Homo sapiens: one gene and its partner. The protein of the gene in region 1 interacts with the protein of each later gene in a biochemical or structural test. Each region holds a gene or a part of one and is shown on either strand. Other genes may lie near its edges.

Region 1 (5,136 bases):
CTAACTACCTAGGAAGTGCATAAACAACATCAGCTTCTCTCTTGTGTAAAACAGCCTTTCCTTTCCTCAATTGATCAAGGCTCTGCACATATGCCTGGACTGAAACTTCCCCTTCTCTGGCAATCTATCCCTCAGAGATCTAAAGCTGACAAAACTCTTTGAAGAGTACAAATCAGCCCCCAAACAGGAATGAAGCAAACACATACTTAAATGACTCAAATTCTAAAGCTGGAGAAGTAGAGACGGGAGTAAGAAACAAGAGAACCGAAAAATAAAGTGTATGATATCAGCATTTCTAAGCCACAACTAAATGCTACTGAGTTAAAGTACTTCATGTAATGATTATCTTTTAGGAAATCCGAGCTGTGTAAAGCATAACCCCTGAGGAACAATCACTACCTTCAAAACCTGGTATGTGGCTACTATCCAATCCTCTGGTTAACCTACTGAAAATGTCTCCTTATTTCAGGAAATGCAATCCAGGACTATTTTCTGGAGCTATCTCCATTCAGATACTTTAACATGTAGGAAGAGAAACAATGACCATCTCTTTGTAGTTGACTGCAATCAAACATTCTGATCCCTCTAAGAATGTAAAATTGATATATATGCAGAAATGTATTCCTAGTTTTGCCTGTTTAAATAGTCAAACATCTAATCACAAGGTATGTGCTCACGCAGCAGAATGACGAATGCTTGGAGAAAAATCCTTTAAAGCCTACCAACATATGAAAGGCCCAGGTCAACAGAGTAAATTATAGCAACAATAACAGTAATCAGAGCAAACATTTTATAGCACTTACTACATGCCAAGCCATGTGCCAAACACTTTTACATATTCATTTAACCCTCACAACTCTATGAGACAGGTACTGTTATTATCCCCATTTTACAGGTGAGGTAACAGAAGTATAGAAAGGTTAAGTAACATGACCAAGGCCACATGACTAATACATGGCAGAGCCAGGATTCTAAACTAGGCAGTCTAGCTGCAAAGTCCATGCTCCTTAACCATTGTGCTATCCTATTTCTCAAGGTATTTTTTTTTCTTTAAAAAATAATTTACATACAGAAGGAGCAGGATTGAAAACAAGGAAAAAAAGAATTTAGCATGGGGTTACTGAACCAGCAAAGCCATTTACAGCCTTTACAATAGTTGGATTAAAAAAGAGTTTGTTCGGGAACACACTAACAGCAAAAAGTGATGTCTACTGTGTATTAGTGACAACTGCAGAACAGGCTTGGAAGGGAACATGGGCGCTAATTAGGCTCACCTCTTTCCTCCCATCTAAACAACCTCACTGGTTTATGAATATTTTTAATGCCCTTTTCTCCTGCAGCCTCAACAGTATTACAAGTCAGTTGCATCTTCTGTGATTGTCTATATCTCTTCTTTCAATTATTCAGAGAAGCAGCTACAACTAAGAAGAATACGCTTCTTGTCAAGATGGCACATATGCACAGGCTACCGGCTGTCTCCTCCAGTATCCTGGAAAAACTACAAGAAAACATGGATTCCAGGAAACAGTAACTACAGCACAGAATATATGAGAAAATCCCACAGATAGAGGGCTGTTTTGAACTGTTTCCCATGACTGCAGAAAACAAAAGACTCCAGACAGCAAACAAAACAAAAAACACCCCAAGACACCAAACAAAACACAGTTAAAACCAGTGGGCCAGGGCTCAGCCCATGATGCTCTGCAGGGAAAGGTAGTTGCTGGTACCTGTAAGGGAATATCAGCTCAAAGGCCAAGACAGCTAGATACCTGAGAAGGTCTATCATCTGCCCCACAAAAGACAACAAACTGAATAACACATATATTTTAAGCAACTGTACTTTGCTTAAAAAAAGATTAGACAGACCAGGAACTTAAAACAAGCATGATAATACTTAAGGAGGGAAGGCATTAGTAAAATGATATAGAGTAAGAAATAATGCAAGAATCAAGTAGAAATATTATGCATAAAAATATGAGTTGAAATTAAAACACAGCAGATGGGTTATTATTAGAATGGATATAGCTGAAGACTGAAGTAGTAAGCTGGGAGATCAAAATGAGGTACCTCCCAGAAGGAAGCAGTGAAGGATAAAGAAAATTTATTTTTTGTATTTAAAAGAAAGTTAAGAGCAGACAGAAGTAGGAGTGATAGAATTGTAAAAAATAATGAGACATATTTTCCAGAATTTAAAAAAGATGAATAACCTCATATTAAAAGATCCCAGAGTTTTAGCAGAAAATATAGGTGAACAGCTTTCTTATTTTATTTTAAAATTTTTTTCCAGAGATGAGTTTCAGTTATGTTGTCCAGGCTAGAGTGCAGTGGCTATTCACAGATGCAATCACAGGACATGATAGCCTCAAACTCCTGGCCTCAAGCAATCCTCCTACCTCAGCCTCCTGAGTAGCTGAGATTACAAGTGTGCTCCACTGCACATGGCTGCTTTCTTATTTTAGAACAAAAACGAATTTCTTTAAAAAGACACAAAAACTAACCATTAAAGACTGATAGATTTAATTACATTAATTAGTTCTGTTTGCTGAAAATTGAAATAAATCTTAAACATAATGAAAAGACAAGTTACAAACAGATAGCCTATATCTGCATTACATACAGCCAACAAAGAATTAGCAGCAAGAGTGAAGTACTCTTAGAAATCAATAAGCAAGAGGCAAAAGAAAGAACAGGCATTTCACAAGAGAGGAAACAAATATGGCCAATAAACACAGGAAGAGATGCTGATCCTAATTGGTAATTTAAAAAATGTAAAACAAGACCATAATGAGATATTTTATACCCATTTGATGAGCAAAAATTAAGAAGTCTAATAATTCCAAGTATTAGTGAGGCAGTGAATCTATAGGATCTCATAAATTGCATGTAGAAGCATCAGTACAATCAATTTCAAAAGCAATACAGTATTAACTTGTAAAAATGAACATTGGTTCATATTACCCAGCAATTCTACTCTCAAGCATATCCACCCAAGAGATATTCTTGTTCATCTGAACCTGGAAATATGGATTAAAATGTTCATAAAAGCGCTGTTTGGAATTGAATAAAACTGGAAGAAACAAAAATGCCTATTAATAAATTATGGTCACAATATAGCAATAAGCAACAAGGGTGAATCCTAGTAACATAATAGTGAGTGAAAATAACCAGTCCCAGAAAATAATGAATAAAATACCATTTCTAAAAAATCAAAAACAATATAATAAACAATATATTATTCAGGTATTCATATATACATGATAAAGTAAGAATGGCAAAAGAACAATAAAGACATAACTCAATACAGTAGTTACCTTTGAAGGGAGGCAGGGTAATGGAACAGGGAAGTAGCATGTAGGTAGATTAAGTCATGGTAATGTTTTACTTAGTTCTTAAGCTGGGTGATAAAACAATGACATCAGTGTATCATGAACCAAGCATTATAATTAATTCAATTTTGTGCATTTGATCACTCTCTCTTACCCTCAAAAAGACAGAGAAGGTACATATAAACCTCTTATTTTTAGTCAAAAGTGCAAGTTCTGGGAGTCAATATGAACAGCTATATTGTTTGAACTTACTTCCACAAAATTTCCTGCATATACTTCTTCCAAAGTGACTTCTAGATCTACAATAATATCACTTCCTCTTGGAATATTTCTGTCTTGCTGACGAGGGGTTCCTCCAAACATGAAACCAAAATCCCCAAAGAAGCTAAAGATAAGTGCAAAATCATCAGGAAAAAAAAAAAAATCAAGACTCTATGTTTCACAATTAACTCATTTTCTTTACGTTGATAAACTATTGTTTCTATCAATGCATTGTGCAAAACTACAAGGTATTTTTTAATACAATGGAGTCAACTATCATACATAATTTTAAATTTATATACTATCAACCATGTTGTAACTATACGGTCCCTTACTACAAAAAAATCCACTTTTTAACAAAATATAGCCCATACATATAGTACAGTACATACACACACAGTATGCCAATGAATTCAATGTTGGACCCAACCAATGAAATAATAATCTTTCAATATTGGGAAAAATCTGAATATGGTGGACTTATTGAGAAAGAGTATAGTATACATAAACTTGTGTAATGCTAAATGTAATGGTTAATTTAAGAAATTTTTATCGGTAATTTTAACATATGTAGTGTTCTCTTTACATGCTTTTTAGAAGCTAACTTGTTGAAAGAAGCTACTGCTCTACACAAAAATCTTGAGTATGTAATTAAATAAGCTAAAAAAGCATCAGCCTTAGTAAAATCCTAGTGCTTAAGGAGAAGGAAGTTCTAGCCTCTATAAGACCCAAACTAATTTTTGTAAGTAACAAGAGTAACTTGAGATTAACAAAAAAGGTGACCTTCAATCCTACAGGTGGTTTAATCTAATGTTAATTTTTGGTGTTATTAAGAAGCCTTGTATATTAGCATAGCGAAGATGATAACTATATAACTCCCTCTCCCACCAACCAACTCAGGTGAATGAATTCCCTGAATCTTAAATAAAGGCAAGGGGAAAGAACAGGGTGGGGGCTGGGGAAGCTGTTTCTCTTTCTGGTATTCCCTAGGGATCACTTCAGCCAGCCAAATTGATCCTGGCGGGGGGAAAAGATGTCCTAATCATGTTACTCACACATCTTTACAGACCCTAAAAATCTACTCCCCCACCCCAGGCCCCTCAACCAAGCACTAAATGGTGGTAACTACTATATGCAACAGTGATTCTTACTTCTTTTGGGGAAGGGTTCACAGAACCCTTTGAGAATCTGAAGAAAACAATGAACTCTCCCCATAAAAATGCAGATTCGAACATCTTTTTGTTTATAATTTCAGACCTGAAACCCCAGATTAAAGTCTCTTAGTATATGTAATCATCAGGGAATGTGGAAATTCAAATGCTCAATAAAGAGAGGTTCAAAGAGTGAGGAAGAAAGTGTTTATTATTCCAACCACCCAGCACTCCCAGAAAGCAAGAGATAAAGGTCCTCTACCCTAATTCCTTCCCCTAATGCTGGTTATTATAATCACCCTCACTTGTTGATAGCACGAAAGAGAGGCAGCTCTGGGTATGGGAGCAGGAATTTTTCTATCTCTGCTAACAATAATTTTGCTCATTAAGTGGTTTGC
Region 2 (3,500 bases), on another chromosome or scaffold:
GTTCCAGGTTACTGTGAGCTATGATTATGTCACTGTACATAGCCTGGGTGATACAGTGAGACCCTGTCTCTTAAAAAATTAAAATTTTATTTCATTTGTTATTTTTTTTGTGGAGGCGTGTTCTCTCTGTGTTGCCCAGGTTGGTCTCAAACTCCTGAGCTCAAGAGATCCTCCTGCTTCAGCCTCCCAAAGTGCTGGGATTACAGGCATGATTCACCATGCCTAGGCCAAATTTTTTTTTTTTAAAGAAAGAAATAAGGAAATAAATGGAAGATGTGTATTTGAGAATTTATATACCGCAGGCCTGCTGCTCCCCTGCATGACCCTGGTCAGATTACTCCATGGTTATGAAATCATGCCTCACCTGGCCTACAAACTAATCAGTGTCACTCCGTGGAAGAAAGTCTGGGCTGGAAAGGACAGAGGTTCAGTTTCCTGGGGTGCAGTGTGAGTGGCCCCGGCTTTGGAGTGATCTAAGCAGTACTTTGTTTAGATGGCTCTCCTGGCCCTTATCATCAGAGGAATATGGACCCCGCACTCTAGAGGAGGAAGTAAAACCAGGCAAAACCACGTCCTCCATTCAGACTCTCAAAGGTGGTTACAAACTTAAAATGGTCCATGAATCTCAGTCTAGTCTAAAGAAGCAACACAGTGTTGCAATCAAGAGCCAAGGCTCTAGGGTCAGAGAAAAATGGGTTATAATCCCAGTTTAGCCAATTACTTGCTCTAACACATTTGGCAAGTTTCCTAACCTCTCTAGACCTCAGTTTCCCCATTTGTCAAATGTAGACCCTAAGATTGCCTATTCCACAAGGTTGTCGGAAGACTCACGTAACACAATGAATGGAAAACATTTGCAAGGTGCCTGACGCAGCAGATGCTTCATAAACGTTAAGCACTGTTATTACGGCAGCCTTTCAGAGGGTTAGAAAGATGCCTGTTTTATGTTTATTTCAATGGCATGAACATCATTGACATTAAATGTCAACTTGGGAATTTTGAGGAGGTGAGAGCCTCCTGTGTAAGAATACTTCTCTTTCTTATCTCTACTATTCGGTTTGCCATGCATATGCTTATGGATTTTTAGTTTGGGTTGCAAAAATACCCACTTGGTGTCCTAGTGTGTTGTATATACGTGTGTGTGTGTGTGTGTGTGTGTGTGTGTGTGTGTGTAAATAGCTATTTAACAGAGGAAAAAGGGAACTAATAATACTGGTAACATAAACATCTCAATTACATATTTGGCATCCCAGCCAGAATCATTTGAACCAACTGCATTTCGTACTAAGTTACTACCCTTGAATTGAGCCTCATGTGTATGTTTCCTCGCCATGACTGCCAAATTGTTAGCTGAATGTCTAGTTGCATAACATAGAACCTAAGTTGAGCCAGTCCTTGGAATATGTCTCCAAAGTCAGAACACTTTTGAAGTGACTCTGAGGCTTTTTGCACCTTTAAGGCTGGAGAGAGGTGGATTGCACACTTTCTGACGTTTTATTTTTCATATAGAGGGCTAGCCATATACTGTGAAGTATGCTTTCTACGGTAGGCCCAGGCCATTCCCATGAAAAGAAAGTGAGCAAGGGCTGTGGAAAACTGAAGATAAGCCTGCATCTAGAGCTACTAAATTCCTTAAAATAAAAACAATCAATAACAACAAAACAAAATTAAAAAACAAACCAGGCTGTAGGCAGTGACTCACACCTGTAATCCCAGCACTTTGGGAGGCCAAGGCAAGATGGTCGCTTAAGCCTAAGATATCAAGGCCAGCCTGGGTAAAATGGGGAAATTTCCGTCTCTACAAAAAGATACAGAAGTTTAACCAGCTGTAGTGGTGCATGCCTGTAGTCCCAGCTACTAGGAAAGCTGAGGTGGGATAATCACTTGAGCCCAGGAGGTTGAGGCTGCAGTGAGCCATGAGCATGCCACTGCACTCCAGCAGGGGCAAGAGAGACAGACCCTGTCTCAAAAAAAGATAATAATAATTAAACTAAAATTATAAATAAATAACAAAAAAAATACCCAAAACTATTTCCTGGAAAAGAATTGAAGTCTATGACAAAAATGCATGGACTGATCAAAAGTCCCTAATTTCTTCCAATTTCCGAAATAGAATCACCTGGAAATTGATTTGTTCTGTTTTGTTTTGTTTTGTTTTGTTTTGTTTTGTTTTGAGACAGAACCTCACTCCACCACCCAGGCTGGAGTCCAGTGGTGCAATCTTGGCTCACTGTAAACTTTGCCTCCAGGGTTCAAGTGATTCTCGTGCCTGAGCCTCCCAAGTAGCTGGGATTACAGGCATGTGTCACCACACCCGGCTAACTTTTGTATTTTTAGTAGAGACGGGGTTTCACCATCTTGGCCAGGCTGGTCTCAAACTCCTGGCCTCATGTGATCTGCCCCTCTCAGCATCTCAAAGTGCTGGGATTACAGGCGTGAGCCACCGTGCCCGGCCAAAATTGGGTTTTTATTTCAGGTTTGATAGATGATTAAATAGGTGTTGGAGTCCTTGGTTACAGGTACATTATTTTTCAGACTCAGGCTGCGTTTTGAGAAAGGCGATACAGGAATTGGAGACTAAAGATTTTGATTTATGGCTTGATTACCCAACAGAGGTGTCACAGTGCCAGATGGTCTCAGAGTCAGTGGCATGAAGGAAAAAGGAAGTCTGTGAGACCTCACTGTAAGAGGCTCATGACAATAAAATTGAGTCTGAGAACTCTTCTCAAGCTAATATTTTTAAATAATAATCACTTGGCACATATTGATTGAAAATTTAGGCCAGGCGCGGTGGCTGACTTTGGGAGGCTGAGGCAGGTGGATCACCTTAGGTCAGGAGTTTGAGACCAGCCTGACCAACATGGCGAAACCCCGTCTCTACTAAAAATACAAAAATTAGCCGGGTGTGGTGGCACATGCCTGTAATCCCAGCTACTTGGGAGGCCGAGGCACAAGAATCACTTGAATCTGTGAGGCAGAGGTTGCGGTGAGCCCAGATCATGCCGTTGCACTCCAGCCTGGGCAACGAGAGCAAAACTCCATGTCAAAAGAAAAAAAAAAAAAGCACTTCCACCAAAAAAAGAAAATTTAAAAATATATTTATAGGCCGGGCGCGGTGGCTCATGCCTGTAATCCCAGCACTTTGGGAGGCTGAGGCAGGCAGATCACCTGAGGTCAGGTGTTCGAGACCAGCCTGACCAACATGGAGAAACCCTGTCTCTACTAAAAATACAAAATTAGCTGGGTGTGGTGGCGCATGCCTGTAATCCCAGCTACTCAGGAAGCTGAGGCAGGAGAATTGCTTGAACCCAGGAGGTGGAGGTTGTAGTGAGCCGAGATCGCGCCATTGCACTCCAGCCTGGGCAACAAGAGTGAAACTCCCTCTCAAAAAAAAAAAAAAAAAAAAAAAAAAAAATATATATATATATATATATATATATATGTTTATATTTGAAATTTAAAAATCACACACACACACACACACACAAAAGGAACTACCG

The links. The genes of interacting proteins can lie anywhere in the genome.
Region 2: the proteins of DNAJB11 (region 1) and APOBEC1 form a complex in vitro, tested with the Homo sapiens proteins (one study listed by BioGRID).

The regions. Positions count from the first base shown.
Region 1 is NC_000003.12:186,576,243-186,581,378, reverse strand, and holds part of DNAJB11 (dnaJ homolog subfamily B member 11 isoform 1 precursor), read right to left. Parts: intron 3,712-5,136; coding exon 3,579-3,711; intron 3,395-3,578; exon of another isoform or gene 3,312-3,394; intron 9-3,311; coding exon 1-8. UniProt on the Homo sapiens protein: As a co-chaperone for HSPA5 it is required for proper folding, trafficking or degradation of proteins.
Region 2 is NC_000012.12:7,655,909-7,659,408, forward strand, and holds part of APOBEC1 (C->U-editing enzyme APOBEC-1), read right to left. Parts: intron 1-3,500. UniProt on the Homo sapiens protein: Cytidine deaminase catalyzing the cytidine to uridine postranscriptional editing of a variety of mRNAs. Form complexes with cofactors that confer differential editing activity and selectivity.